4 linked regions of the Homo sapiens genome follow. The protein of the gene in region 2 purifies or fractionates together with the protein of the main gene of each other region. This does not show direct contact. Each region holds a gene or a part of one and is shown on either strand. Other genes may lie near its edges.

Region 1 (7,446 bases), on a different chromosome or scaffold from region 2:
TCACACCTGTAATCCCAGCACTTTGGGAGGCTAAGGCGGGTGGATGGCTTGAGCCTAGGAGTTGAAGACCAGCCTGGGCAACATGGTGAAACCCCATCTCTACAAAAAATTGGCTGGGCATGGTGGTGCCTGACTGTAGCCCTGGCTAGCAGGGAGGCTGAGGTGGGAGGTTTACCTGAGCCTGGGAAGTTGAGGCTCCAGTGAGCCATGATCCTGCCACTTCACTACAGCCTGGGTGACACAGTGAGACCCTGTCTCAAAAAATAAAAATAAAACTAAAGATAGATCTGGGAGCCAAACAGAGTAAGAAACACATTGTTTACCATGTAAACAGGGTCTATATAGAAGTAGGGCCAGGAGCTGTGGCCCACATCTGTAATCCCAGCACTTTGGGAGGCTGAGGCAGGAAGATTGCTTAAAGCTATGAGCTTGAGACCAGCCTGGGCAACAAAGCGAGACCCAATCTCTATAAAAAATAAAAAGGCTGGGCATGGTGCCTCCCGCCTATAATCCCAGCACTTTGGGAGGCCAAGGTGGGAGGATTGTTTGAGCCCAGGAGTTTTGAGACCAGCCCGGGCAACATAGAGAGACCCGTCTCTATTAAAAATAAAGAAAGGAAATTAGCCTGGTGTGCTGGTACACACCTGTGGTCCCAGCTGCACAGGAAGGTGAGGTGGGAGGATCCCATGAGCCCAAGACTTCGAGGCAGCAGTGAGCTATGATAGCGCCACTTCACTCCAGCCTGGGCAACAGAGTGAGACCCCATCTCTTAAAAAAAATTATTTTTTAATAAAAATAAAGTCAGTGAAACCTCAGCTGAAATTGCAATAAAATTTCAATTTCGGCCTTATTTGACATCCATTTTCATTTACTTGAGAAGTTATCTATGCCATGTATTGTGTATCTCAGTAGATGTGACATACTAACAGTAAGAGCAATTGCATTGTACGCTCTTCTCTAACAACACTGACTGCAGAGACATGTAGTGTATTTTTTTCATCATCTGTTGAATTACAAAGCATGGAGACAGATGAAACATGATTCTATTGATTATATGAGTAGAACTCTCACATAATCTGGTTGTCTACTTTTCTGGGTGGTGGTGTTTGTTTGTTTGTTTGTTTGTTTTTGAGATGGAGTCTCGCTCTGTTGCCAGGCTGGAGTGCTGTGGCGCGATCTCGGCTCACTGCAACCTCTGACTCCCTGGTTCAAACAATTCTCCTGCTTCAGCCTCCTGAGTAGCTGGGATTACAGGCACGTGCCGCCACGCCCAGATAATTTTTGAATTTGTTAGTAGAGACAGAGTTTTACCATGTTGGCCAGGCTGGTCTCAGTCTCCTGAACTCATGATCCGCCCACCTCAGCCTCACACCCGGCTTTTTTTTTTTTTTGAGATGGAGTCTCACTTTGTCACCCAGGCTGGAATGCAGTGGCACAGTCTTGGCTCATGGCAACCTCCGCCTCCAGGGTTCAAGCAATTCTCCTGCCTCAGCCTCCTGAGTAGCTGGGATTACAGGCGCCCACCACTAGGCCCAGCTAATATTTTGTGTTGTTTTTGTTTTTGTTTTGAGACAAGAGTCTCTGTCTCTTGCCCAAGCTGGAGTGCAATGGTGCGATCTCGACTCACTGCAACCTCTGCCTCCCAGTTTCAAGCAATTCTCCTGCCTCAGCCTCCCGAGTAGCTGGGATTACAGATGCCCATCACTGTACCCAGCTAAATTTGTATTTTTAGTAGAGACGGGGTTTCGCCATGTTGGCCAGGCTGGTTTCGAACTCCTGACCTCAGGTGATCTGCCTGTCTCAGCCTCCCAAAGTGTTGGGATTACAGGCGTGAGCCACTGCACCTGGCCTAATATTTTGTATTTTTAGTAGAGATGGGGTTTCACCATGTTGGCCAGGCTGGCCTTTAACTCCTGACCTCATGATTCGCCCACCCCAGCCTTCCAAAGTGCTGGGATTACAGGCGTGAGCCACTGCACCCGGCCCATTTTTGTTTGTTGTTTGAAGTATGCGAGTATAATTAAAGGAATATTGATGGTAGAAATGGGAGAAGAAGTTTGTCACATAAATCATGTAAGAGTTCCTGTTGGGATAACAATAAAAGATTTATATTCCATAATTAACCTAAATAATTTTTATTTTTTTTAAATTAGGTTGTTGCTTGTGAACTTGACCCAAGGCTAGTAGCTGAACTTCACAAAAGAGTTCAGGGCACGTGAGTATACATAATAGAATTAAAGTGCATTTCAATCTCATGAAACAACATTCTTTTTACATTTCTTCTTTTCTCATCAGGCCTGTGGCCAGCAAACTTCAAGTACTGGTGGGTGATGTGCTGAAAACAGATTTGCCATTCTTTGATACTTGTGTGGCAAATTTGCCTTATCAGGTATGTCCTCACATTTTCAGGAACATCATACTAACTGTTCCTCTGATGTGTCTTTCCCGGAAATAACTAGTTAATTCTCTTACAGATCTCTTCACCTTTTGTCTTCAAGCTGTTGCTACATCGACCTTTTTTCAGGTTTGTGACAAAAGACTAGAGTTACTGCCAAATTTTGAAAGACTTACAGTTCAGGTGGTGAACATAGCCAAAAATGAGTCAGGTCAGTTGAAAAACTACTGAAGAATTTTTGTAGAAAATGTTGATTTGTATGGAGGTCTTTCTCTCTTTAATTGAGAGGTTATTTGGGGGTAGTGTGCTGGAAGTCCTGCTTCTGAGACCAGACAGCCTTTCCCTATTTTTGAATCTTCCTGCCGTTAAGTCTAGGTTAGAATTTTTATTACCTTATGTCTAGACAATTGCAGTGGTTTCCTAACTGGTCTCTAGTATAAGAGGTCTTCAAAAAGTTCATGGAAAATGTGTATTATGAAAAAAACTTGCATGGATTTCAAAATTTTTTTGCACCAAAATAAACTCTGTACTAACTGAGCAGGATCTAGTGTGAGGCACTGAGAAGGATAAGACATCAGTTTGAAAAGAGCCCCTATCAGAGCAACATGAACTCTGCTAAAATTCAAGTAAGAACAAACATCCAATTTATGGTGAAACCTGGTTGGAAGAATGGTGAAATCATTGATGCTTTACAAAAAGTTTATGGAGTCACACCTGTAATCCCAGCACTTTGGGAGGCCAAGGCAGGCGGATCATGAGGTCAGGAGATCGAGACCATCCTGGCTAACATGGTGAAACCCCACATCTACTAAAAATACAAAAAACTAGCCGGGCGTAGTGGCGGGCGCCTGTAGTCCCAGCCACTCGGGAGGCTGAGGCAGGAGAATGGCGTGAACCCGGGAGGCGGAGCTTGCAGTGAGCCGAGATCGCGCCACTGCACTCCAGCCTTGGCGACTGAGCGAGACTCCGTCTCAAAAAAAAAAAAAAGTTTATGGGGACAATATCCCAAAGAAATCAGCAGTTTACTAATGGATAACTCATTTTAAGAAGGGCTGAGACAATGTTGAAGATGAAGCCTACAGTGGCACACTGGCCATATCAATTTGTGGGAAAACATTCATCTTGTTTGTTCCCTAAGTGACGAGGAACAACATTCAACAGCACAAACAATAGCCAACACCATAGACATCACAGTTGGTTTAGCTTACACAATTCTGACTGCAAAATCAAAGTTAAACAAACTTTGTACTTGATAGATGCCAAAACTGTCATACCCTCTTTTCTGAAAGATTTTATGAAAAAACAAAACAAAAAACATTGTACTCAAATCAGCTGCAGATAAAAGCAGAGCTTCCAGTGGAAATTTTACATAACTGGGATCAAGATCCTGAAACATGGCTGGGTGGAGTGGCTCACACCTATAATCCTAGCACTCTGGGAGGCCGAGGCGGGCAGATCACTTGAGGTCAGGAGACCAGCCTGGCTAACATGGTGAAACCCCATCTCTACTAAAAATAAAAAAATTAGCTGGGCATTGTGGTGGGCACCTATAATCCCAGCTACTCGGGAGGCTGAGGCAGGGGAATCGCTTGAACTCAGGAGGCGGAGGTTGTAGTGAGCCAAGATTGTGCCACTGCACTCCACACTCCAGCCTGGGCAACAGAGCGAGATTGTCAAAAAAGAAAACAAGATCCTGAAACATTTCTTCAAAGAATTACAAAGAATTGTAATGGAGATGAAATATGGCTTTACCAGTGTGATCCTAAAGACAAAGCAGAGTGAAAGTGATGCCTACCAAGAAACGGAGTGGCTCCAGTCAAAGCAAAAGCAGACCAGTCAAGAGCAAAGGTCATAGCAACAGTTTTTTTTTGAATGCTCAGGGCATTTTGCTTGCTGACTTTCTTTAGGACCAAAGAATGAAAACATCTGCTTATTACAAGAGTGTTTTGAGAAAGTTAGCTAAGATGTAGCAGAGTAACTCCTGGGAAAGCTTCCCCAGAGATTCCTCCACCATAATACTTCTACTCCTTCCTCTCATCAGACGAGGGCAATTTTTCGAGAGTTTCAATGGGAAATGGTTAGGTATCCACCTTACAGTCCTGATTGGGCCCCTTCTGACTTCTTTTTATTTTATGAGACAGTCTTGCTCTGGTGCCCGGGCTGGAGAGCAGTGGTATGATCTGCACTCACTGCAGCCTCCACTTCCTGGGCTCAAGCATTCCTCCCACCTCAGCCTCCCAAGTAGCTGCGATTACGGGCATGTGCCACCACACCCAGCTAATTGTTGTATTTTTTTTAGAGATGGGTCTTGCCATGTTGCCCAGGCTGTCTCCCCCTCCTGAGCTCAAGTGATCTGCCCACCTCAGCCTCCCCAAATGCTGGGATTATTACAGGCATGAACCATGGTGCCCAGCCCTTCTGATTTATTTTCGTTTCCCAGTCTTAAAAAATCTTGAAAGGGCACTCTTTTTTCTTCAGTTAATAATGTAAAAAAAAAAAACCTGCAGTGACATGGCTAAATTCCCCAGAGCCTCAGTTTTTTTGATATAGACTAAAATGCTGGTATCATCACTTACAAAAGTGTCTTGAACTTGATGGAGCTTATGTTGAATAATAAAGTTTATGTTTTTTCTTTTTTTTCTTTTTCTGAGACAGGCTGGAGTACAGTGGTGACATCTCAGGTCACTGCAACCTCAGCCTCCCTGGGCTGGGCTCAGATGATTCTCCTACCTCAGCCTCTTGAGTAGCTGGGACTATGGGGGTGTACCAGCATGCCTAGCTAATTTTTGTGTTTTTTTTAGAGAAGGGGTCTCACCATGTTCAGCCCAGGCTGGTCTTGAACTCCTGAGCTCAAGCGATCTGTCCGCCTTGGCCTCCTAAAGTGCTGTGGATTATAGGTGTGTGCCGCCACACCAGCCTTATTTTATCTTTTAATTCAATATTTCCATGAACTTTGAAGTCACTTTCTATATTATATACTAGTGGCTTTCAAACTGCAAGTCAAAAACTAGTGGTTATAAAATTAATGAGTCATGACCATTCTTTTTTTTTGTAATCACATGGAATAGAATATATCACAGGGCATTGCATGTAGTCCAGGTGATTATGGTTTCATGAAACTTTTGTTTTGAAATACAATATAAACACATATACATACAGACATTTGTGGCTTGGCTTGCAATGCCAAATGTATTTTTAGTGTGACTCATTGTCAAAAGTTTGAATGTCAAAGTGTAGCTTTGAAGATACTCTTCTGTTCGTTAACCCCTACAAAGTCTTCCCCATTGCCTGCTGAATAAAAAGTCTACATCTTTTGGCTGGGTGTGGTGACTCATGCCTGTAATCCCAGCACTTTGGGAGGCTGAGGTGGGCGGATCACCTGAGGTCAGGAGTTCCAGACCAGCCTGGCCAACATGGTGAAACACTGTCTCTACTAAAAATAGAAAAATTGGCCAGGGGTGGTAGTGTGCGCCTGTAATCCCAGCTACTCGGGAGGCTGAGGAACGAGGATCACTTGAACCTGGGAGACGGAAGTTGTAGTGAGCCGAGATTGCGCCATTGCACTCCAGCCTGGGCGACAAGAGCGAAACTCCGTCTCAAAAAAAAAAAAAAAGTCTACATCTTTTAACCCGTCAAATCAAGGAAACATTGAACGTCACAATCTGCCTCTTCAGTCTCACCTCTTCCTTAAAGGTGTTTGCTACCCCATAAATATATTACTGCTACTGAAACAATTTTATTTCACTTTGTTTTCATAGAAGAGGTGATGGACTAGTGCTGATTTGAAACATCTCATCCAGTCATTAAAGGCTTATATTTGCAAGCTATCTTGCCATGAGGAGTACAGCAATTATAAAAACAAAGCCAGCTCTCTCATTCTGTGGCAATAAAAAAAAGGCTGAATGTGTTCTCCTACCTTATAATCAGCTGCCAATGCTTTGCTATTTCTCTCCCAAGAAAATTCATTGCAGTTAAAATTCATTTATAGTTGACAATGACCATTTTCCTTATTCCTTTCTGCTTTCTTTTCAGGTGTGCTATACTTATGTTTCAAAGAGAATTTGCCCTCCGACTGGTTGCAAAACCTGGAGATAAGTTATACTGCAGACTCTCAATTAATACACAGCTGTTGGCACGTGTGGACCATCTAATGAAAGTAAGTGAATTTTGTTTTCTTTCTCTTTTTTCTGAGATAGAATCTCACTCTGTCACCCAGGCTGCAGTGCAGTGGCTCACTGCGATCTCTGCCTCCCATACTCAAGCAATCTTCTCGAGTCCCGAGTAGCTGGGACTAGAGGTGTGCGTCACCACGCCTGACTAATTTTTTGGTATTTTTTGTAGACACAGAGTTTTGCTATGTTGCCCAGGTTGGTCTTGAACTCCTGGGCTCAATGATCCATCTGCCTTGGCCTCCCAAAGTGTTGGGATTACAGGTGTGAGCCAAAGCACCCAGCCAGTGATTTTTATTATTGAAATAATCTAGCTTAATTCATCCTTGAGCATCCAGTTGTGCCTTCTGTGAGGATAGCATATCTGGTTACTAAATAAAAGTTGCCTTTGTGAGTACTACTTAAATACTTTTTCATTAACAGGTGGGAAAGAATAACTTCAGACCACCGCCCAAGGTGGAATCCAGTGTTGTAAGGATAGAACCTAAGAATCCACCACCACCCATCAATTTTCAGGTGAGGTTAAAATACTAGCTCATTCAATAAAGGAAAAAAAAGTCCAGGCGGGAAGATGTGTGCCTATAACAGCAGAAAAATATTGAATCAACCTAAATATTCAAACATAGGAAAATGTTAATTAGGACACATCCCTGTGCTGAAGTAGATGGAATAATTTGATGCAAGGTAGTTTTGAAGTGAGACCCAGTCTCAAAAAAAAAAAAGAAAAAATGGAATAAAACTAGGAAAACAAGGTAAAATGAAAATAGTTGTTTTAAAGTAGTATTATGGGTAACATCTTTTCATTGTAATTGTTTTTTGAGATTTAAAAACAAGAAAGAAGACCACTTGATATAAAACCTTACTACAGCCACATTAGAGAAA
Region 2 (8,188 bases):
GGGGCGGGGAGGGGGCAGCTGTTGGTTCTTTCTAACCCTCTCCAGGTCAGGGAACAAATTTGCCCCTAAACTTCCACAGGAGGCACTCTACCCTCTGGGCCAGAGCTGGGCACAGTGGCAAAGTCAGATTAGAATTTCTAGAGTTCTAACAGCGATTCCCAACCATTTCCTCAACTTTTCTTCTGTTTCCCACATCCCAAGGCAGGGAAATCCCTGCTGCCTCTCCTCATCTTCTAACTCAGCTGTAAGGCGGTTTAGGAGCCGCTGGCAGAATCAATGGCATCGACCAAGGGAGGGGGGGTGGCAAGGGATTTTCCTGTGCTTAACTACTGATCACGGCTAAGTGGAAATCCTATAAACACGAGCGGAAATCAATGGAGGCTGCTTAGCGGCCAGGGGAGAGGGGCGGCCCACAGATTGCATCTGACGGATGAGCGAGAGGAAGCAGCCAGGGAGGGCTCAAGGAAGAGTAGCTTAGAGGAGGGGGAAGAAACAGGCAGCGCTGGAGAGAGAGGAGTCACTGTCAGAAGGGACACTGAGGGGAGAGGCACAGTGGGCCCAGGAGTGGACTCCGTTAGACCCAGAGTTCCCTTCCCCTTCTAGGAAGTGACACCCCTAGCCCAGGCAGTGGTCAGGATCTTCAGTCTCCTGTGGCCTCTCTCTGGAGCTGTTCACTTCTAGCAGGCGCTGATAGTCTTGAGGCCGGAAACGCTGTAGATACACAATCAGCTTGGCTGGTGCTGTCTCCTGTGCAGGCACACCTACAGGTAAAAGGACAATGAGGAGAGAAATGGACAGAGCCACAAGCACTTGGACTCTGCTCCCTGCCCACCTAGCCAGGACTCCGTGGATGTTTCCAAAGCCACACTGGGGTTCTGAATGTCACCCACCCAGCTTCTGTAACACACTAGTCCACTCCCTGCCTGCCTGTGGAAGTGGGACCTAAAAGAGCAACTTCAGGCAAGAGTGGGACTAGAAGCCACACCTCAGCCTCTCTCCTCCAGCAAGGAGAAATGGCGAAGAGGCACCCAGGCACCAAGATAAACGAAGGATGCCTCAGCGTCAGCTCATTTCAGTTATTACCCTGTTCCGCAATCAAGATTAAAGCCCTAGACCAGGCCAAAGCTCATTAGCTTAGTAATGAAGCACATGCAGAGATGTACACATAGAAACCAAGAGCTATAGAAAGAAGAGGAGGGAAGCTATAGCCATGGGGTGGGATTCACATAGAATTCTCGCCTCTACATGGTGAGGTGAGAATGGAACTGCCTGTTGCCAGTGTCTTGTTGTTAGTGCCTGGCAGCATGCTGGGCACATAGCAAGGAACTCAGTGTATGTTTGCTGAGGGGGCTCAAACAGCACTGCAGGGCTGTAAGGCCCCATGGGATGCACAATTCCTAGTGTGGATGAACTGTCTACAAGGGAATTATGCTTAGGAACAAATCTGCCAAATCATGCCCCACTGTCTCACATAACTATAATGTTATTGTCCTTTACAAAAAGCCAAAAGGACAAATTAAAAGGATCTAGGTAATTGTAAAACAAAAGGACAAGACTGGTTGGACTCTCAGTGTAGTGGGCAGTGCATCAGTCTCATGATCTGAAGATCCTGGGTCTGAGCCTCCCAGAGGGCAGCTTTTGTAAAAAGGCTTACTTTTTACTCCTTGTGGAGGAGTGGTGACTGAAGAAGAAGAAAAAAAAGAGATTGGGGGAAGGAAGAGTCAAAGCAGGGAACTGAGAAATGAAACTGAAGGAGATCTGGCTATAGGTATGAGAACTAAATGAGGCAGGTTGGCTGGAATTAGACACGTGGAAGGACTAGATCCAAATTAGCTACTGTTAAAGAGAAAACGAGATTTCACAGAACTGTAAGCAAACTTAGAAAATTGCTAAAACAATTCCCATTACAAAAATAATCCAGGCCAGGCACAGAGGCTCACACCTGTAATCCCAGCACTTTGGAAGGCCGAGGCAGGCAAATTGCTTGAGTCCAGGAGTTCCAGACCAGCCTGGGCAACACGGCAAAACCTTGTCTCTATTAAAAAAAAAATTTTTAATCCGGAGGCCCTCCCCCACTGCATGGTCCAGCAGGTGCCTCCAAAAGAGAAAAGTGGGGAGCAGGAAAAGCACAAAAGGGCCTGTCTCCCTCACCAAGCATGCTGCTGAGCCTGTGGATCTTCTCTAGGGCAGTTGGTACTTCAGCCTCCTCATGCACCAGGGCCTCTACCTCACCCACAGCGTAGCCAAAGTCGGCTGTATCCAAGTCCACCCTGAGCTGTGGCTCCTCTTCATCAGCTCCCAAGAGCACCAGCTTCCAGGCACTCCGCTTAGTCACAAAACTAGCTACTTCCTGCAGCCCCAGTGGGCCCAGCACAGCAGCCACATCTCCAGCCCCCAGGCCGTCAGCCCGCAGCACCTTACAGAGTTGGGCCACAATTGTAGGTTCCGCTGTGAGTTCCTTATACTCCGTGTGGGGTCCTAAGACACCTGCTGCTCCAGGACATTTGAGCTCCCATCCACTATCCTCTCGTCGTCGCAGCCAGTGGTCAGCCTGCATGAGGCTCAGCTCAGGGGTGTCATAGTAGGTGTCTCGGAAGGTGACCCGGTACTCCAGGGTGCCCCCCAACTCCTGCAGCCGCTCCTCTGTGCCAGGCCCTGGAAGGAACTTTCGCTCCACCTCAATCAAGCCCTGGGCCATGCTACCTGCAATTGGCTGAACAAACGTTTGCTGAGTTCCCAAGGATGCAAAGCCTGGTGCTCAGCTCCTGGGGCGTCAACTCAGTACAGAACCCCTCCCTGGAAAAACTTATGAGGGGCACACTGTGTCGCAATAGTCTCTAGGGCTACTGCCCTTTTCTCTCTACCTCGGTGACATTAAGGCCCCGTCGGTGATATTTTAAGGCTCTGACAGTGACAGGTCTCCAGTAAAATCCCTTCCACTGCTGCTGATGTCCTCAATCCAAAGAGACCCCTAGAAAGCAGGCCGGGTAGCGGGTGTCCTTTCAACGCCCCCCTCTCTACACCTTGCCACCCCAGGAGGCTACTGGCTCACGACCCGGGAGGACCTGCCCTTTCCTGCTACACTACCGGCCAGCGGAACTTCAGGTCTCACCTCAAAGCCCGAGAGTCTCCTCGCGGGACCCACAGAGGGGGAAGGGAGCCCACGCCATACACTCGCGAGGAATGCCGGGAGCAGTTCCGGATCCCGGACCTCGGCCCGACCCTCCGCGCGCCCGGCAGGTCCCGGCACCAGCGGCCATATTACGCCCGTTGTGGCGGTGCCGAGAGCAGGCCAGGGCTCGAGACACGCGCTATGTAATGGGAGGCCGCGACCCCCGCGGTGGCCAGGGGAGCGAGGCCGCCCCTTGCATTCTGCTCCTCATTGTTGGCCCCGCACGGCTCCCGGGGGCTGGTACAGGTCTCATGCCTGAGGCTGAGCCAGGCACCCCGAGGCGCGGATGCATGATGGGAGATGTAGTTCCAAAGGGAGACTTTGCCATCTCGCCCCGCCCGTCGCTATGGCGACAGGAAAGCTGCACTTGGTGCCTGCGGTACTCTACCTAAAGCTGAACTGGGGCTACAAGGCGGCGGGGAGAGTCGGGTGCAAGGAGCTCAAGCCCCAGTCCCGTCTCCAACACCCCCCGCCGCACCCCCAACGCAGGCAGATGGGCCTGGAATACAAGCCATTCACACCGTCCAACAGATATCTGCTATAGCAGCCAGCTAAGCGCAGGCCAGTGGCAATGGTGGCGAGGGGGGTTGGGGTGGGGGGAGGGAAGGGGGCGGGGGCAGCGCGTAATAAAGTCCAGTTTAGCTACTCTGGAGTTTTAGAGGGGATCTAATACCTCCTGGCATGAACGTTGAGGGTAAGAGTGGGTGAGAAACTTTCTGTCAGAGAATAAAGTGGTATTTTGGCCAGGAACTAAAGATATGATGGTATTTCAACAGTTGGAGACCTAGATGGAGACAGGAATAGCCTAAGCAAAGGCCCAGAAACTGGAGAGCACCTGGGTGGTACGTAAGGAGAAGACGAGGCTAGAAATGCAGTTGAGGGAAAAGCCTTGAGTGCTAGACTGAGGAGTTTGTCAGAGTTTCCAGCGGTCCCTAAGCAGTTTTTGTCAGGTGTAGAACTACTTATGTTCATTTAGAATACAGAAAGGCCGGTGCGGTTGCTCACACCTGCAATCCCAGCACTTTGGGAAGCCGAGGCAGGTGAATCACCTGAGGTCAGGAGTTCGAGACCAGCCTGGCCAACATGGAGAAACCCCCCCGGCCCGCCGTCTCTACTAAAAATGCAAAAATGAGCCGGGCATGGTGGCGCGTGCTTGTGTTCCCAGCTACTCCAGAGGCTGAGGCATGAGAATTGCTTGAACCTGGGAGGCAGAGGTTGCAGTGAGCTGAGATGGCGCCACTGCACTCCAGCCTGGGCGACAGAACGAGACTCCATCTGTCCCCAAAAAAATAAAATTCAGGAAAACATGGGGGTTGGCCCTTTGAATGCTTTGGGAGACAAAATATTAATAGAGATGATTCCTTCTTACTCCCTCTGAGGACTATGGTTATCTGGAGACTCTAACTATATGTCTGACCTTCCATGTGAGGAAGCTCCCTGAGGAACCGTGGCTCTTAACTCCTGGACTCCTTCCTATGATGGGTGAGAAGTGCCATGTTCTCAACACCTGCCCTCTCACCAGTATGTTTCTGGAAATACATGACCAGTGAGAGGTATTATAGGGAGAAGGACACTGGTTTAAAGACATGGCATTTTGGCCAGGTGTGTTGACTCACACTTGTAATCCTAGCACTTTGGGAGGTCGAGGCAGGAGGATCATTTGAGGCCAGGAGTTTGAGACCAGCCTGGGCAACATAGGAAGACCCTGTTTCTACAAAAAAAAAAAAAAAAAAATTTTAATTAGCCGGGTGTGGTAGTGCATGCCTGTGGTCCCAGCTGCTCAGGAGGTTGAGGCAGCGGGATAGCTTGAGCCCAGGAGGTCAAGGGCAGTGAGCTACGATCCTGCTACTGCCTGCACTCCAGCCTCGGCAACAGAGCAAGACCCTGTGCATAAATAAATAAACAAATGGCATCTTGAACTTGGAGTAGCTTGGGTCAACCTCTGTCCCCACTCCATGTTAAGCACTGTTGGTTAGGGAGAGAAGAAACCCCAGCTCCTAAAGCCTGCTTTTCATCCATCTTTTGCTTTCCGGTTTTGTTAACCTGGGATGAAGACCTAATTTTTCCTTATGTTATAAGATCCAATCCAGTGGGGCAAAAGCAGCAGCTTATTTGAACAGAAAGACCAGTTTCCGGAGCCAGACCTGAGGTCGACTCCCAGCTTCACTTTCTAGATGTTTGGCCTTCCGCAAGCTACTCCACTTTCCTAAGCATCTGCTTTTTTTTTTTTTTTTTTTTTTTTTTTGAGACAGAGTCTCACTCTGGCGTCTCAGCTCACTGCAACCTCTGCCTCCTGGGTTCAAATGATTCTCCCGCCTCAGCCTCCTGAGTAGTTGGGACTACAGGCACGTGCCACCCCACCCTCCTAATTTTTGTTTGTTTGTTTGTTTGAGACGGAGTCTCGCTTTGTCGCCCAGGCTGGAGTGTAGTGGCGCCATCTCGGCTCACTGCAAGCTCCGCCTCCAGGGTTCATGCCATTCTCCTGCCTCAGCCTCCCAAGTAGATGGGACTACAGGTGCCCACCACCATGCCCGGCTAATTTTTTGTAATTTTAGTAGAGATGGGGTTTTACCCTGTTAGTCAGGATGGTCTCGATCTCCTGATCTTGTGATCCACCCGCCTCCACCTCCCAAAGTGCTGGGATTACAGGTGTGAGCCACCACGCCCGGCCTGTTTTTGGTTTTGAGACGGAGTTTCACTCTTGTTGCCCAGGCTGGAGTGCAATGGTGTGATCTTGGCTCACCGCAACCTCTGCCCCCCGGGTTCAAGCGATTCTTCTGCCTCAGCCTCCCGAGTAGCTGGGATTACAGGTGCCCACCACCACGCCCAGCTAATTTTGTATTTTTAGTAGAGACAGGGTTTCACCATGTTGGTCAGGCTGGTCTCGAACTCCTGACCTCAGGTGATCTACCCACCTCAGCCTCCCAAAGTGCTGGGATTACAGGAGTGAGCCACCATGCCCGGCCAGCCTCTGCTTTTTCATTGAGAAAATGTGGCCTGCCTCACAGTTACCTGTGAGGATTCAGTCATAAACTGTCACATAGTATAAACTCAAAATGTTCATTTATCTCTCCTTTTTGTCATGTGAACTTCAGGGTTTTGTTGTGTTGTTTAAGAGAAGTAGGCTATAGCAGTTAGTATGGGCCCTGGAGCCAGACCATGGAGGTTTTTGAGTCCTGGCACTGTCACTTACTTATTGGCCATTGGACCTTGGGCCTGTTAATTCACTTGTTTGTGCCTTAGTTTCCTCAATAAATGAGACTATAATAGCATCTACCTCATGCTTGAGGTATTGAGAGGAGTAAACAATGTATGTAAAAGTGCTTGGAACTGTCCCTGTGCATTCAAGAAATCTTAAAAATTATTATTAGAATACAGGAGCGGCCGGGTGAGGTGGATCACCCCTATAATCCCAGGACTTTGGGAGGCTGAGGCCGGTGGATCACCTGAGGTCAGGAGTTCGAGACCAGCCTGGCTAAGATGGTGAAACCCCCGTCTCTACTAAAAATACAAAATTAGCAGGGCATGGTGGTGGGCACCTACAATCCCAGCTACTTGGGAGGCTGAGGCAGGAGAATCACTTGAACCTGGGAGGTGAAGGTTGCAGTGAGCCGGGATCATGCCACTGCACTGCAGCCTGGGCGACAGAGTGACTCTGTCTCAAGAAAAAAACAAACAAACAAAAAAACGGGCTGGGCGCGGTGGTGGTTCACACCTGTAATCCCAGCACTTTGGGAGGCCGAGGCAGGCGGATCACAAGGTCAGGAGTTCGAGACCAGCTTGACCAACGTGGTGAAACCCCGTCTCTACTAAAAATACAAAAATTAGCTGGGTGTGTTGATGCATGCCTGTAATCCCAGCTACTTAGGAGGCTGAGGTAGGAGAATCGCTTGAACCCGGTGGTGGAGGTTGCAGTGAGCCGAGATCGCACCACTGCACTCCAACCTGGGCGACTGAGTGAGACTCCGTCTCCAGAAAAAAAAAAAAAAAAAAAATTCAGGAGCACTTAATAAGCGATAAACTGAAGATGAGGAGGAGCCCGAACCTCCCCCAACCCAGCTCAGGGGACTATGTAACCGTGTGGAGGAGGCAGAAGCTCTCAGAGACTAAAGAGTAATTGCTGCGGTAGAGAAGGTTCTAGTACCCAATTTCGCGGGGGGAGATGGGGGAGGCGGAATAATAAGGCAGGAAGAAGAGAATGAAAAAAGGAGGCCTTGGGCGGCTCAGGGCTTGTTCTGAAGCTGATTTAAAACAAAACAACAAAACACATGTATGGTTTCTGCAGGCCACAGGATGAAGAGGAGAGGAGACGGAAAAGAGTTTAAAGGGGCCTGCCCTCTTTGCAGGCACCGGCTTGAACCTGGAGGCGACCTGGTGGGCTGGCCGGCCTGCCCCCGGCCCTGGGTCCCGCGAGGCAGGCGGGCGGGCGCGAACAGACTACAACTCCCGGCATGCGCCGCGGCGGGCGGGTCGCTGCACCTGCTCAGTGGGGCAGCCCCGGGCGCCTGGGTATTGATTATTCCATTGTGTGGGACGCCTAGACTCCAGCCAGTGAATGAGGCGGAGGAGTGAGGGCGAGGAGGAGGAGGAGGAGGAGGGCGAGGAGGAGAAGGAGGAGGAGGAGGAGGAGGCAGGGAGCGAGCGAGTGCCCAGGGTGAATCAATGGAAACCCCCTCACGAAGCCGGGGAAACACTTCAGCCGCAGCCAAATAGCATTGATTATTTTCCTTCACTTCCCTCACCGCCGTGAATTTATTTATTTATTTTTTTCCGTCTCCGTCCCTGACGCCCCGGAGCGAGCGCTGGAGGGAGGGAGGAGGAGGGGAAAAAAGAGGAATCAACACATCGGAGAAGTCCCTTCCAAGAGCCGCCCCCTCCCCTCCCCGCCTCGCGCTGCTCGGTGGCCGCGGTTCGACTCCCGTCCCTGCTTCCAGCTGAGGTGTAAGTGCATCGATTTCCGATGCTGCTGGGTTGGTTTTTTTCTCCTCTCCCTCTCTCTCTTCTTCCCTTCCTTGC
Region 3 (7,070 bases), on a different chromosome or scaffold from region 2:
CCAGATGTATGTAGCACTATGGTAGGTGCTGGTTATAGTTAACAAAACAGGCTGGGTCACCATCTTTGTGGAACTTATGGTGTAGTTGGAAAGATACGTAAATAAGCTTGGGAGATTTGCTATAGGACAGGAAATACTAAGCAGTGTTTGGATGCCACTGGGAATAATTCAGAAGGAAGGACACAGATACTATAGTAGAGACATGATCAAAAGAATTAAAGGCCTTGAGAAATGAGAGGGGATGATGAGACCCAGAGCATGTGGGGAGTGACTGAGTTTTGTAGGAGGGATACTTCAGTTGTAACTAGAGAGAAAGGTTGAGTGATGGAGTAGATAGATTTATAGATGGTGGGATGATGAATTCCATCAATGGTTTTTCAATGAAATGTGAAGCAAGATCCTTAGCTAGATGGAGAGGAGAATATTAAATGGTCATTTCAGAGTATTAACAAGAAGTTACAGTTGTTGCTTATTTCTTACCTCCTACAGCTTCCTAGTTGTTGTTTTACACTTCTGAGATTTTGATTTAGTTCTCATTATTCTTTTCTGGCAAATTTCTACTTGTTCTTCCAGACTTATCTAGGCCATCACTTTCTATGTCACCACACCTGGTACCTATCTCACTTCCACTATTAAAATACACTTTAGTTTGTATTTGTTTCCCCTACAAGACTAGTAAGATTCCTGAAAAACTTGGCCTGTGTCCCTAGTGTCAAGCGGGACATTTAAGTAAGGATTTTTGATAAATGTTTAACAGACATTGTCTGTGGAATCTACAGCTAGAATTTATCTGATATGGAAGTGCCAAGGATTAATCAATCCCTAGAATGAAGCAGCTCATATGACATCTGTGCCCTTTTAAAAATGGCACTGTTTGGCTGTGCTTGTTGTTGTCAATGCAGAGTGCTCCTGCACCATTGCTGTATGGACACACCACCACGTTGGCTTTCATTTAGTCTTTTTGTTTTATTCAAATGTCAAAATGTAAGTTCCAAGATACAAATTATGTTTGATTTAAAAACATCGACTATGCTTTGTTAACAACTTCCAAAGCCAAATGTAAGTTGTTGTGACTAAAATGCCTCCCCAGTACATTTCTGGAGGATTAACCTTAATATGTTTAGCAGCTAGTCTGATTTCCACTCTACAAAAAGGAAAATGATGCTATAAGGGAAAGATAATGAACAAAGTTATAATATGTAAGACTTCCTGGGAAGAACTTGAACCATTACTAGGGAGACCAAGGAGAGGTGTTTCTGTTCCATACTATAGCAACCAGCCTTAACACTCTGTAATACAAAGTGCATTTCTGGTCCTACCCAGCCATAAATACCATACATCCCTTTTATTAATTATATCAAAGAAAGCCCAACTCTTCATCAACAAGATTTAGAATTTCCTAATAGCTTTAGTTTTTCCCTAAAAAAAACTGTGTAAAAGGAAAGCTCGAGTCTATAAACCAAAAAAAAAAACCCACAAATATTTACATGTACTCTGATTTAAACAATTTCAAATGAGATTAAACTGAATGAATATAGAACTTGTACCACCATTATAGAAGGAAAGAAAAAAAGCTTAAAAGGTACCCAAATATTTTAATATTTATGGAATTAAATGATACAATTTTCATTAAGACCCCAAATATCCCACCACTTTTTAGCTTTGCTGTATAATGAAGGTTAGTAACTTATATGTTAGTGTGAACACATTTACTTTGGCTGATAGCAAAACATAGATTTTTTAAAATGTTCTAAGAAGCCAAAGAATTAGACCAAAATGTTCAGCACCAAAAAACAAAACAAAAAAACTAGCTCAATACTTCAGGTTAAATACACAATATCAAGAAATTTTATTTAGGTCAGCACATGGCTGTTACTATGACTGATACTGCATGCTATTTCTAGAATTAGATATGTATCTTTCTGGCTGGATGCGGTGGCTCATGCCCGTAATTCTAGCACTTTCAGAGGCCAAGGTGGCCGATTGCCTGAGCTCAGGAGAGACCAGCCTGGGCAACATGGCGAAACCCCGTCTCTACTAAAAATACAAAAAATTAGCCAGGTGTGGTGGTGCACGCCTGTAGTCCCAGCTACTCAGGAGGCTGAGGCATGAGTATCGCTTGAACCTGGGACTCAGAGGTTGCAGTGAGCCAAGATTGTGGCACTGTACTCCAGCCTGGGTGACACAGCGAGACTCTGTCTCAAAAAAATAAAATAAAATAGATATATAACTTTCTGAAGATTTAAGCCAGACTTCAATTCCATGTACTCACCCATAGTACTAAAATGGATTAAAGATGGTAAATAAGGCCGGGTGTGGTGGCTTACGCCTGCAATCCCAGCACTTTGGGAGGCTGAGGCCAGCAGATCACAAGGTCAGGAGTTACAGACTAGCCTGGCCAACAGGGTGAAACCCTGTCTCTACTAAAAATACAAAAATTAGCCAGGTGTGGTGGTGCGTGCCTATAATCCCAGCTACTTGGAAGGCTGAGGCAGGAAAATTGCTTGAACCTGGGAGGCGGAGGTTGCAGTGAGCCAAGATCGCACCACTGCACTTCAGCTTGGGACAGCGTGAGACTCCGCTCAATTAAAAAAAAAAAAAAAAAAAAGATGGTAAATAAATCAGACAACTTGGTAAGAAAATGGCCTTTTTTACAGAACCAATTGGGAAGTTAGTGTCATGCATTAGCAGATAAGACTAGGAATACAGCTAAACCAATTATCAAAATATAGTTCTTCAGGGTATTTTTCAATGAAATGTTTAACTACTTGAAAACTACCTGGTCCAATTTTTTGTTTTCGCCCTGAGACGGAGTCTCACTTTGTCGCCCAGGCTGGAGTGCAGTGGCACAACCTCAGCTCACTGTAAACTCTGCCCTCCGAGTTCAAGCGATTCTCCTGCCTCAGCCTCCCGAGTAGCTGGGATTACAGGCACCTGCCACGGCACCCAGCTAATTTTTCATATTTTTAGTAGAGATGGGGTTTCACCATCTTGGCCAGGCTGGTCTTGAACTCCTGACCTCGTGATCCACCCGCCTTGGCCTCCCAAAGTGCTGGGATTACAGGCGTGAGCCACCACGCCCGGCCTACCTGGTCCAATTTTTAAGATGAATAAAATTCCAATATTTTCAGAAACACATGTGGGTAAAAAAGGTAACACTAAAGAATGGTATCTCAATATTCAATTTTAAAGAATTTATTTTCCCATTTGTAGAGTAACATTATTGTAAAATCTACAGTTATCGCAATACCTGCATTGCTTAAAAGAATTCCTAAGAATTTTGTTAAAGCATATTTTTTTTAAAAAACTGAACCAAAATAATGTACATTTTATCTCTAAACATTGTGTCATTAAAGTCCATATAACATCTTCCGTAAAATCAATGTGATGTTACAATTATATACATGATCTGATTCTTCTCCTAAAGGCTTCTCTGACCATGTATGATATCCAAGATAGATCCAATGCCTTTAATATCAGACTGTAGAGACAATTATGATCCTAAACAAAAGAAGGAAAAGCTGTATATACAAGACAGCAATATGACAGTTTAGCTGTTTGCAGCATCTGCTTGGCGGGGCCATCCTTCTTCTTCAACTCCAGAGTCATACTCCTCTTCAGAGGATTCTTTTGTTGGAGCCCTACAATGAAAAGCCATGTTTGTTTTTTTAAAATAAAAAATGGAGGTAAACATGATCTTTAAAATCAAAACAGCAAAGTAACCTCTCCTAGCTAAGAAAGCCACGATAATAGAAAATATTAGGAGCACTTTTAATATTAAGACGGCTTAGGCCGGACACAGTGGCTCACATCTGTAATCCCAGCATTTTGGAAGGCCGAGGAGGGCTGATCACTTGAGGTCAGGAGTTCGAGACCTGCCTGGCCAACATGTTGAAACCCCATCTCTACTAAAAATACAAAAATTAGCCGGGTGTGGTGGCACACACCTGTAGTCCCAGCTACTCAGGAGGCTGAGGCAAGGGAATCGCTTGAACCCAGGAAGTGGAGGTTGCAGTAAGCCGAAATCATACCACTGCACTCCAGTCTGGGCGACAGAGCAAGACTGAGTCTCAAAAAAAAAAAAAAAAAAAAAAGATTGCTTAGTAATATGGGAAACAGACTATACAACCAAGAGTTGCAAATAAACTTCCCAGCATTTTCCCTGACAAATTTATTACTGGGAGAAAAAAAAAAAAAAAAAAAAAAAAGGACAATATGGCTTCAATTGTGAAGGCTTAAAAAATCCTCTTCTCCAAGAAAGTATCATCTGTTATTTCAACTCAAATGCTGGAACTTAGCATATGTATATGGTAAAGAAGCTATTTCTGATCACATCCGTCTTGTCTCGAACTAGTAAAAATGATAATTCAGGTCACCACAATTCCTTTAAAAGCCATACGTCAATGTCATTAAACAATAAAAATAAAAGATTATATCTCTCTGGATAACTAAGGTTGTTCAAAACACATCAACTGCCTCTAAAGTTATCTTGGAACACAAGCAAACATAAAACATAACATACCTTATGATTTGAGTTAAACAGAAACCTAGCTTTTGTGTAGGTAACATTAATGTCAAGCATTGCATAGTAAACATTTATTGAATAAATCAGGGGTTAGGAAACTGTAGCTTGCTAGCCAAATCCAGCCCCATTGCCTTTTTTTATATATTTTTTGAGACTGAGTCTCACTTTGTCGCCCAGGCTGGAGTGCAGTGGTGCGATCTTGGCTCATTGCAACCTCCGCCTCCTAGGTTCAAGTGATTCTCCTGCCTCAGCCTCCCGAGTAGCTGGGACTACAGACGCACACCACCACGCCCAGCTAATTTTTGTATTTTTAGTAGAGACAGAGTTTCACCATGTTGGCCAGGATGGTCTCTATCTCTTGACCTCGTGATCCGCCCACCTCGGCCTCCTGAAGTGCTGGGATTACAGGTGTGAGCCACCACACCCGGCCTGATGATCAACTTTCAAAGACTCACAAAATACTATTATTTTATAATACCCAAATTAGATTTTTCTACAGAAAACTTGAGATTATTGCTTCCCTTAGAAATATAATAATTTTTATGTAATTTTAAAATGACAAACCAATAAACATAGCAATGAGGAGCTCATCTTAAATTTTGTATCTGTTCTGGCTTGAAAATACACTTTACCGGATGTATCCTGGTTCCTTTTTTCCTTCTACTACTTCTTTGTCAACCTCCACACATACGATATCAGAATTAGGGACTTCAAACATTGGTTCTAGTAACAGCTTTTCCTAAAGAAATAAAAAGTAATGAATCACATTGAAAACAGATTACATACAAGTGCTTTTATTCTATAAATCACAAATTGGAATCCATTCACTCAAGGAAAAAGAAACAAACAAAACAAATATATATATATATATAAACATATATATGGGATTATATATATAAACATATATATATATATATTTGGGATTATAGCTGTGATTACAGGCGTAAGCCACCAAATCTGGCCAATTTTTTGTATTTTTAGTAGAGATGGGGTTTCGCCATGTTGTCCAGGCTGGTCTTGAACTCCTGAGCTCAGGCAATCCGCCTGCCTCAGCCTCCCAAAGTGCTAGGATTATGGGCATGAGCCACCATGCCCAGCCTCTTTTTTTTTGTTTGTTTGTTTGTTTGTTTGTTTTGAGAGATGAGGGTGTATGTTGCCCAGGCTGGTCTCAAACTCCTGGGCTCAAGCAATCCTCCTGCCTTGGCCTTCCAAAGTGTTGGGATTTATAGGTGTGAGTTACCAGGCCCGATCCCGATTTTCTGTGTCATTAATCATATTATGTCTATGTCCTTTGTTGCAAACACCTTGAAGTTCCTTTTTGAGAAAAAGCAAAATATAATCTACTGTGACTAAAAAAAAAAAAAAATTCAGGCCAGGCGTGGTGGCTCACGCCTGTAATCCCAGCACTTTGGGAGGCTGAGGCAGGCAGATCACCTGAGGTTAGGAGTTTGAGACCAGACTGGCCAACATGGTGAAACCCCATCTCCACTAAAAATACAAAAATTAGCCAGGTGTGGTGGTTCTTGCCTATAGTTCCAGCTACTTGGGAGGCTAAGGTGGGAAGACTGCTTGAGCCTCAGCCTGGGAGGTGGAGATTGCAGTGAGCCAAGATCGCACCACTGCACTCCTTTATTTGAGACTCTGTCTCAAAATATATATACATATTTTCCAAAAGAAAAACAGGGAAGCTTAATATACTCAAAACTCAGACCAAGAAATAATTGTTTTTATAGAATAATGCCAACTCACCATTATGGACCGAAGGCCTCGTGCACCTGTTTTTCGTTCTAGTGCCAATCTGGCTATAGCTTTCAAAGCATCCTCAGTAACATTCAGTTCACACTACAAATACATTAAAAATAAATTATAACTTTTATTGTTAATTTGTACCACCAGAAAATGTACCATTAAGTGAGGGCACAATTTCTCATGGTGTTTTGGAACCCTGCCTTCAAGAAGCACTTGTTTCTATCAATCCATGACAGTATCAGTATTATGAATTCCAAGTTTGTTCTGAAGCTTGAAGATGTTTTCTAGATTAACACGGACTCCCTAGGATTTTTTTCAACATTTACTAAACCTCTGTGTGTTACATACTAGGGATTTAATGATGAATAGACATCATCTTTGCCAAGCAACTTACAGTCTATTGTGTGATGACAGATGACAGATTAGCAAACTAGCATTTATAGTCCAGTGTATGTACATGGAGCTAAGGGAGCAGCAAAGGGGGAGACATCTAAATAAGACTAGGGAACCACCGGAGGATTTTAAGCAAGGGAGTAAAAACATTAGCCTTATCTTTAATCATTCAATAAATATTTAAGAACTTAATATCTATTTGTTGGGCACTGTTCTCAATGATCCATTCCAGAAGTAAAGAGGAAGATAATGATATTTTGGTGATAGTCACAGACAGACATGAGACAGGCAGACCAATTAAGAACTAAATGCATGGGTCAAGGTGAATAATATCAAAGGGGCTTGACTTGAGGCAGTGGCAACGGAGAAGAAGAGACTGATATTTAGAGACACAAAGTTCACA
Region 4 (7,446 bases), on a different chromosome or scaffold from region 2:
TTTGTAGATATGGGTTCTTACCATGTTGCCCATGCTGGTGTCAAACTCCTGGGCTCAAGCGATCCTCCCACCTCAGCCTCCCGAGTAGCTGGGACCACAGAAGGTCCATCCCACACCCCCACCCCACCGTCAAGCTCTCGCTTTAGGGCCCAGGCTGGAGTGCAGTGGTACAATCTCAGCTCCCAGGCTGGAGTGCAGTGGTACAATCTCAGCTCACTGCAACCTCCACCTCCCAGGTTCAAGCAATTCTCCTACCTCAGCCTCTGGAGTAGCTGGGACTACAGGTGTGTGCCACCACGCCCGGCTAATTTTTGCACATTTAGTAGAGTCAGTGTTTCTCCATGTTGGCCAGGCTGGTCTCAAATGCCTGACCTCAGGTGATCCACCCACCTCGGCCTCCCAAAGTGCTGGAATGACAGGCGTGAGCCACCGTGCCTGATCTCAGACACCTTTTGGTGCTTCTTGTTTGAGATGGGGTCTCACTCTGTCACCCAGGCTGGAGCACAGTGCTGCAATCTAAGCTCACTGCAGCCTCCACCTCCTGGGCTCAGGTGATCCTCCCACCTCAGCGTCCCGAGCAGCTGGGACCACAGGCACCCACCACCACACCAGGCTAATTTTTCTTTCTTTCTTTCTTTTTTTTTTTTTTTGTAGATAATAGGGTCTTACCATATTGCCCATGCTGGCGTCAAACTCCTGGGCTCAAGCAATCCTCCCACCTCAGCGTCCCGAGCAGCTGGGACCACAGGCACCCACCACCACACCAGGCTAATTTTTCTTTCTTTTTTTTTTTTTTTTTTTTTTTTTGTAGATAATAGGGTCTTACCATATTGCCCATGCTGGCGTCAAACTCCTGGGCTCAAGCAATCCTCCCACCTCAGCGTCCCGAGCAGCTGGGACCACAGGCACCCACCACCACGCCCGGCTTTTCTTTTTTTTTTTTTTTTTTGTAGATAATGGGGTCTTACCATATTGCCCATGCTGGTGTCAAACTCCTGGGCTCAAGCAATCCTCCCACCTCAGCGTCCCGAGCAGCTGGGACCACAGGCACCCACCACCACACCAGGCTAATTTTTCTTTCTTTTTTTTTTTTTTTTTTTTTTGTAGATAATAGGGTCTTACCATATTGCCCATGCTGGCGTCAAACTCCTGGGCTCAAGCAATCCTCCCACCTCAGCGTCCCGAGCAGCTGGGACCACAGGCACCCACCACCACACCAGGCTAATTTTTCTTTCTTTTTTTTTTTTTTTTTTTTTGTAGATAATAGGGTCTTACCATATTGCCCATGCTGGTGTCAAACTCCTGGGCTCAAGCAATCCTCCCACCTCAGCGTCCCGAGCAGCTGGGACCACAGGCACCCACCACCACGCCCGGCTTTTCTTTTTTTTTTTTTTTTGTAGATAATGGGGTCTTACCATATTGCCCATGCTGGTGTCAAACTCCTGGGCTCAAGCAATCCTCCCACCTCAGCGTCCCGAGCAGCTGGGACCACAGGCACCCACCACCACGCCCGGCTTTTCTTTTTTTTTTTTTTTTGTAGATAATGGGGTCTTACCATATTGCCCATGCTGGTGTCAAACTCCTGGGCTCAAGCAATCCTCCCACCTCAGCGTCCCGAGCAGCTGGGACCACAGGCACCCACCACCACGCCCGGCTTTTCTTTTTTTTTTTTTTTTTTGTAGATAATGGGGTCTTACCATATTGCCCATGCTGGTGTCAAACTCCTGGGCTCAAGCAATCCTCCCACCTCAGCGTCCCGAGCAGCTGGGACCACAGGCACCCACCACCACGCCCGGCTAATTTTTCTTTTCTTTTTTTTTTTTTTTTTTTGTAGATAATGGGGTCTTACCATATTGCCCATGCTGGTGTCAAACTCCTGGGCTCAAGCAATCCTCCCACCTCAGCGTCCCGAGTAGCTGGGACCACAGGCACCCACCACCATGCCACACTAAAATTTTTTTTTTGGGGGGGAGGGTAGAGAAGGGGTCTTACCATGTTGCCCAGGCTGGTGTCAAACTCCTGGGCTCAAGCGATCCTCCCACCTCAGCCTCCCGACATGTAAACGGTGGCTACATTTCCGCACAATCCCCGCGGTCTCCCTCATTCTGTTTTACAACTACTCCCACATAAAGTAACGTAGAAAGACGAGCCCCGTTATTCCCTTAGAAGGTAGACTGGAGCTTGCAGGAAGCTGTAGGATAAACATTCAGAGGCCAACTGAGATAAAACGAAACACCCAGGTGATTTTAAGCTAATCAAGAGCCCCTTTCACGTGGGTGATTTTAAACTAATCAAGAGCCTCTTTCACGCAGGTGATTTTAAACTAATCACGTTCTCCCTTCACAGAACTAAAAAGGGAGGTTAATTTACACAAACGCGCAGGCTACAGCCACCCGTCCTGCCTAGGGACTTCGGGCCAAAAATGCCACCTGTCACACCTCCAATCCAGGCGCTGCAGGGCTGTTAGGAGGGGAATTAGCAGCTGGGATACCCCGATCCTACAAGGAGGGGGGTTAGCAACCCCTCCTGAAATACCAAAAAGGCCTCGGCTTCCTGCAGACGCTTAAGGAACATGCCAATCACAACCGATTTCCTGAAAAACGCAAGAAATCCTGGTGAGGGCTGGGGTTGCAGGACGCTCTGCACACCACGGGTAACAGTTTTGGGGTAGCTTCTCTGAGACCGGCTGCCTCTTACTGTCCCCTGGACCAGGGGGGCGCCGCTCTCATCCTCCTGGCATCTCCCAGGCCCCTGCCCCACTCAGAGCTCCACCGCAGGGGCTCCCGAGGCTGGACTCAGACCCGCTGGATCCCATCCAGGCCCCCAAGGCAGCAGTGGAGACCCTCAAGGCTGGACTCCAGCCCCTAATGTAGACTCAGGGACCCCTGGGATGGATGGGTTCGAACCCCCAAAGCTGACTTCAGGACCCTCAGAGCTGGACTCCACCCTCCAAGGCAGCATTCGGGACCCTCACGGCTGGACTCGAGGCCCACGGCAGACATGAAGACCCCTGGGAGGCGTCCGGGACCCCCAGGACTGAATTTGAGGCCCCCAGGCAGACGTGGGGGCCCCTGGGCGGTGGTCAGGACGCCTGGGGCTGGACCCAACCCCCAAGGCAGACGAGGAGAACCCCCGGGCGGCATCCGGGCCCCCCAGGGCTGGACTCAAGCCCCCAAGGCTAGACGTGGGGACCCACCTGGGCGGCGACCGGGACCCCCAGAGCAGGTCTCAAGCCCCAAAGGCAGACGTGGGGGCTCCTCGGCGACGTCCAGGACCCCCAGGGCTGGACTCAAGCCCCCAAGGCTAGACACGGTGACTCCGGGGTGGCGTCCGAGACTCCCACGGGGGAACTCCAGTCTCCAAGGTAGACGTGAGGACCCCCGGGCGGCATCGGGGACCCCCAGGGCGGGACTCGAGCCCCCAAGGCAGACGCGGGGATGCCGAGGCGGCGTCCAGGACCCCCAGGGCGGGACTCGGGCCCCCAAGGCAGACGCGGGGACGCCGAGGCGGCGTCCAGGACCCCCATGGCTGGACTCGAGCCCCCAAAGCAGACATGGGGACCCCCTGGGTGGCGTCCGGGACCCTGAGAGCTGGACTCGAGCCCCCAGGGCAGACGTGGGGACTCCGGGGCAGCTTCCGGGGCCCCCACGGCGGCTCTCCAGGTTCCAGGGCAGACGTGGAGACCCCTGGGCGACGTCACGGACGCCCAGGGCGGGACTCGAGCCCCCAAGGCAGACGTAGGGACCCCTGGGCGCCGTTCTCGATCCCCGGGGCTGGAGTCAAGCCCCCGAGGCGGCGTTCCGGACTCTCGCAATCAGACTTGGACTCCACCCAGCGCGGAACGGGGTAGGACGGGAGCGAGGACGAGGTGAGTGAAGGCAGCGCTGCCGCCGCCGCCGCCGCCGCCGAGGCTCGGGGTCCTGGCGCCTACCGGGCCGGCGGCTGCACCGCGGGATGGGTCTGCCAGGAGCCGCCCACGCCGAACAAGAAGCGGCCCGGTCCCGCCTCCCCCGCCGGCAGCGCGTGCCAATCACCAGCACCTGATGCGGGGCGACCAATGAGGAGCACGCCCTGCCGGGGCGCGGCGCTAGGGAGCCCGCCCCGGCCGCACGCCAATCACCAGCACGTGACAAGGGATGACCAATGAGGATCACGCCCTATGCTGCGGAGAGGCGCTGGTGAGCACGCCCCAGCTGCACGCCAATCACTAGCACGTGACGCCGGATGACCAATGAGGAGCACGGCCTGTGCCGGGGAGAGGCGCTGGTGAGCCAGCCCCGGCCGCACGCCAATCACGAGCACGTGATGAGGAGCGGCCTGTGGGCAGCCCCCGCCCCAACGTTCAGCCTCCAGACGCGCCATGTGGGCCCTGCGGGCCGCCGTACGCCCGGGGCTGCGGCTCTCCCGCGTGGGCCGCGGCCGCTCGGCTCCGCGGGCAGCCGCGCCGTCCTGCCCCGCGCGCGCGCTAGCCGCTGTCGGCCGCAGGAGCCCCGGGAATCTGGAGGGGCCGTGGGGCGGAGGGCGGGGCCTGCGGGCGGACGGCGGCCGAAGCCGCACGGGAGACGACGAGGAGGAGCCGGAAGATGCGGACGAGAACGCCGAGGAGGAGCTGCTGCGGGGAGAGCCTCTGCTGCCGGCGGGGACCCAGCGCGTGTGTCTGGTTCACCCTGACGTCAAGTGGGGCCCGGGGAAGTCGCAGATGACTCGAGGTGACCGCGGCAGGGCTTTCGGGGGAGAAACAGGAGCTGGAGACCTGGGGGCGGGGCTCTGAGGGGAGGGGGCTCATAGGTGGAGATTCAGGGGCGGGGCTCTGAAGGGACGATCTCATAGGTGGAGATTCAGGGGCGGGGTTCTGTGGGGAGAATCTCATAGGTGGAGGCGCAAGGGCGGGGCTCTGCAGGAAGGATTTCATAGGTGGAGATTCAGGGGCGGGACTCGGGAGAATCATAGCTGGCGATGCAAGGGCGGGGCTCTGGGGAGGCTCATAGGTAGAGATTCAGGGACGGGGCTCTGACCTGAGAATCTCATAGGTGGAGACCCAGGGCGGGGCTTTGAGGGGAAGAGCTCAGGTGGCGACGTAGGGGCGGGGCTTCAGGGGGCCAGGCTCTAAGGAGAGGGTCTGATGGTTGGAGATGCCAGGGCGTGGCGCTGAGGGGCGGGGCTCTGAGGGGAAGAGCTTATGGATGGTGATGCGGGGGCGGGGCTCTGAAGGGAGGATCTCATAGGTGGAGGTGCATGGGTGGGGTTCGGGGGAGGAGCCCATGGGTGAAAGGGCGGGGCTTATGGGGAAGAGGGGAGGATATCATTGGTGGAGGTGCGTGGGCGGGGCTTCGGGGGAGGGGCCTATGGGGTAAAAGTGCGGGGGCGGAGCTTATGGGGTGGAGTCCGTGGGATGGGGTGGGGCCCGTGGGGTCCGTGGGGTGGGGTGGGGTGGGGTGGGGTGGGGTGGGGTTGGGTGGGCCGGGGCGGTTCTCGCCGATGGGACCTACGTTTCTCTTGCTCTGGGTTAGAGGTAGGCACGGTGTGTTTGAGGTCAGGGAAGGGAGGGCGTCCAGCGGACCAATCTGTGTCTAGTCCCACCCCCCACCCCCCAGGAGGAAATGCAAATGAATAAGTCGCTGCACGTGTCAGAGTCTCATAAAGGTTGATTTTTCCCTTGGAAGCTCCTGTAGTCGATGAGTGGTTTTTCTTTACGGGTGTTTTCCAAAATGGCTAATTCCTGGAACAGATGAAGCCCCGAACTGCTCAGAACAGCGCGCAGACCTCTTGCCTCTCTACTCCCCAAACCTGCCGGTGGTTCCTCAGTAATCCCCTGAGCACCCGCAGCTCCCGGGTTCCCTGCTGCGCCCGCCTGGAGCCCAAATTCCATGTAAGGCAGGGTCGCCCTCGTGTCCCGCTGTGGCTCCGGTGTCCTTCTCCCGTCAGATTCCTACTTAGAGGCCCTGGGGGGACGAAGTCATATCGGGGGACAAACGGCGGCTCAAGGTGCCTTCTCCGGGGAGATTGTCTCAAGGGCAGGAGGAGGCCTCCCCGGGCAGGTGTGGACGGGGGCCCCGGGCAGAAGCGTCTCTCACGGTGGCCCTTGTGTCCCCGCAGCCGAGTGGCAGGTGGCGGAGGCCACAGCGCTGGTGCACACGCTGGACGGCTGGTCCGTGGTGCAGACAATGGTCGTGTCCACCAAAACGCCGGACAGGAAGCTCATCTTTGGCAAAGGGAACTTTGAGCACCTGACAGGTGGGTCCGTCCAGACCTGCTCCTTCCCCAAACCTCCTTTCCTGTCCGCCGCTACCGAAAACATCCAACCGAGACATGCTGAAGTACGGGGGTCTTGCGGGGCCAGAGGGGAAGCGGCCTCTCGGATTGCCCAGGTGAGCTGGGAGCACACGCCAGTAGGAGTCGGAGGACGGTGAGGCTTTATCTGTGTCGAGATTCACACCGGGCCCTGGAGAGACTTAAACTGGTAAAGATTAGGTCGGGGCAGTTTATAGAGTCCAACAAACAGGGTAGGCGGTGGACCGGCTGTAACCCCACCTGCCCCTGCAGGCCCCAGCCAAATCCTCCTCCTGGGTGACCCCCACCCCACCAGCAGTCTCTTAGGGTGGGGTCCAGCATGCGATCCTTGCGCTTCCCAGGTTTCTGACCATCCCGCTTCCAGTAGAGTTGGGAAGACGCTACTCACTTGCCCAGGTGGGGGTCGGCTGCCCTGGGTCACCTGCCCAGGTGGGGGTCAGCTTTCCTGCCTGACTCAGATGCATCTCACCCCTGCTGGGATGTGTTCACCCTGTGTGTGTGTGTGTGTGTGTGTGTCCCCAATGGGATGTGTCCACGGTGCATGTGTGTGTGTGTCTGTCCCTGTCGGGATGTATTTACTGTGTGTGTGTCTGTGTGTGTGTCTGCGTGTGTATGTGTTTGTGTCCCTGCTGGGATGTGTTTACTGTGTTTGTGTGTGTCTCTGTGTATGTGTCTGTGTGTGTGTCTGTCCCTGTCGGGATGTATTTACTGTGTGTGTGTGTGTGTGTGTCTGCGTGTGTATGTGTTTGTGTCCCTGCCGGGATGTGTTTACTGTGTTTGTGTGTGTCTCTGTGTATGTGTCTGTGTGTGTGTCTGTCCCTGTCGGGATGTATTTACTGTGTGTGTGTGTGTGTGTCTGCGTGTGTATGTGTTTGTGTCCCTGCCGGGATGTGTTTACTGTGTTTGTGTGTGTCTCTGTGTATGTGTCTGTGTGTGTGTCTGTCCCTGTCGGGATGTATTTACTGTGTGTGTGTGTGTGTGTCTGCATGTGTATGTGTTTGTGTCCCTGCCGGGATGTGTTTACTGTGTGTGTGTGTGTGTGTCTGCGTGTGTATGTGTTTGTGTCCCTGCTGGGATGTGTTTACTGTGTTTGTGTGTGTCTCTGTGTATGTGTCTGTGTGTGTGTCTGTCCCTGTCGGGATGTATTTACTGTGT

What was found.
Region 1: the proteins of THTPA (region 2) and DIMT1 purify together in Homo sapiens (affinity purification with mass spectrometry; 2 studies listed by BioGRID and IntAct, with this or other methods). This does not show direct contact.
Region 3: the proteins of THTPA (region 2) and CLPX purify together in Homo sapiens (affinity purification with mass spectrometry; 3 studies listed by BioGRID and IntAct, with this or other methods). This does not show direct contact.
Region 4: the proteins of THTPA (region 2) and GTPBP6 purify together in Homo sapiens (affinity purification with mass spectrometry; 2 studies listed by BioGRID and IntAct, with this or other methods). This does not show direct contact.

What each region holds. Positions count from the first base shown.
Region 1 is NC_000005.10:62,393,589-62,401,034, reverse strand, and holds part of DIMT1 (dimethyladenosine transferase), read left to right. Parts: intron 1-2,153; coding exon 2,154-2,215; intron 2,216-2,295; coding exon 2,296-2,389; intron 2,390-2,474; coding exon 2,475-2,524; exon of another isoform or gene 2,525-2,606; intron 2,607-6,427; coding exon 6,428-6,551; intron 6,552-6,987; coding exon 6,988-7,080; intron 7,081-7,446. UniProt on the Homo sapiens protein: Specifically dimethylates two adjacent adenosines in the loop of a conserved hairpin near the 3'-end of 18S rRNA in the 40S particle.
Region 2 is NC_000014.9:23,551,268-23,559,455, reverse strand, and holds the start of THTPA (thiamine-triphosphatase), read right to left. Parts: upstream 3,186-8,188; 5' UTR 2,699-3,185; coding exon 2,152-2,698; intron 762-2,151; coding exon 616-761; 3' UTR 1-615. UniProt on the Homo sapiens protein: Hydrolase highly specific for thiamine triphosphate (ThTP).
Region 3 is NC_000015.10:65,147,273-65,154,342, forward strand, and holds the end of CLPX (ATP-dependent clpX-like chaperone, mitochondrial precursor), read right to left. Parts: intron 6,368-7,070; coding exon 6,275-6,367; intron 5,265-6,274; coding exon 5,158-5,264; intron 3,642-5,157; coding exon 3,551-3,641; 3' UTR 947-3,550; downstream 1-946. UniProt on the Homo sapiens protein: ATP-dependent chaperone that functions as an unfoldase.
Region 4 is NC_000023.11:315,702-323,147, reverse strand, and holds the start of GTPBP6 (putative GTP-binding protein 6), read left to right. Parts: upstream 1-4,351; 5' UTR 4,352-4,360; coding exon 4,361-4,709; intron 4,710-5,663; exon of another isoform or gene 5,664-5,869; intron 5,870-6,096; coding exon 6,097-6,234; intron 6,235-6,242; exon of another isoform or gene 6,243-6,368; intron 6,369-7,446.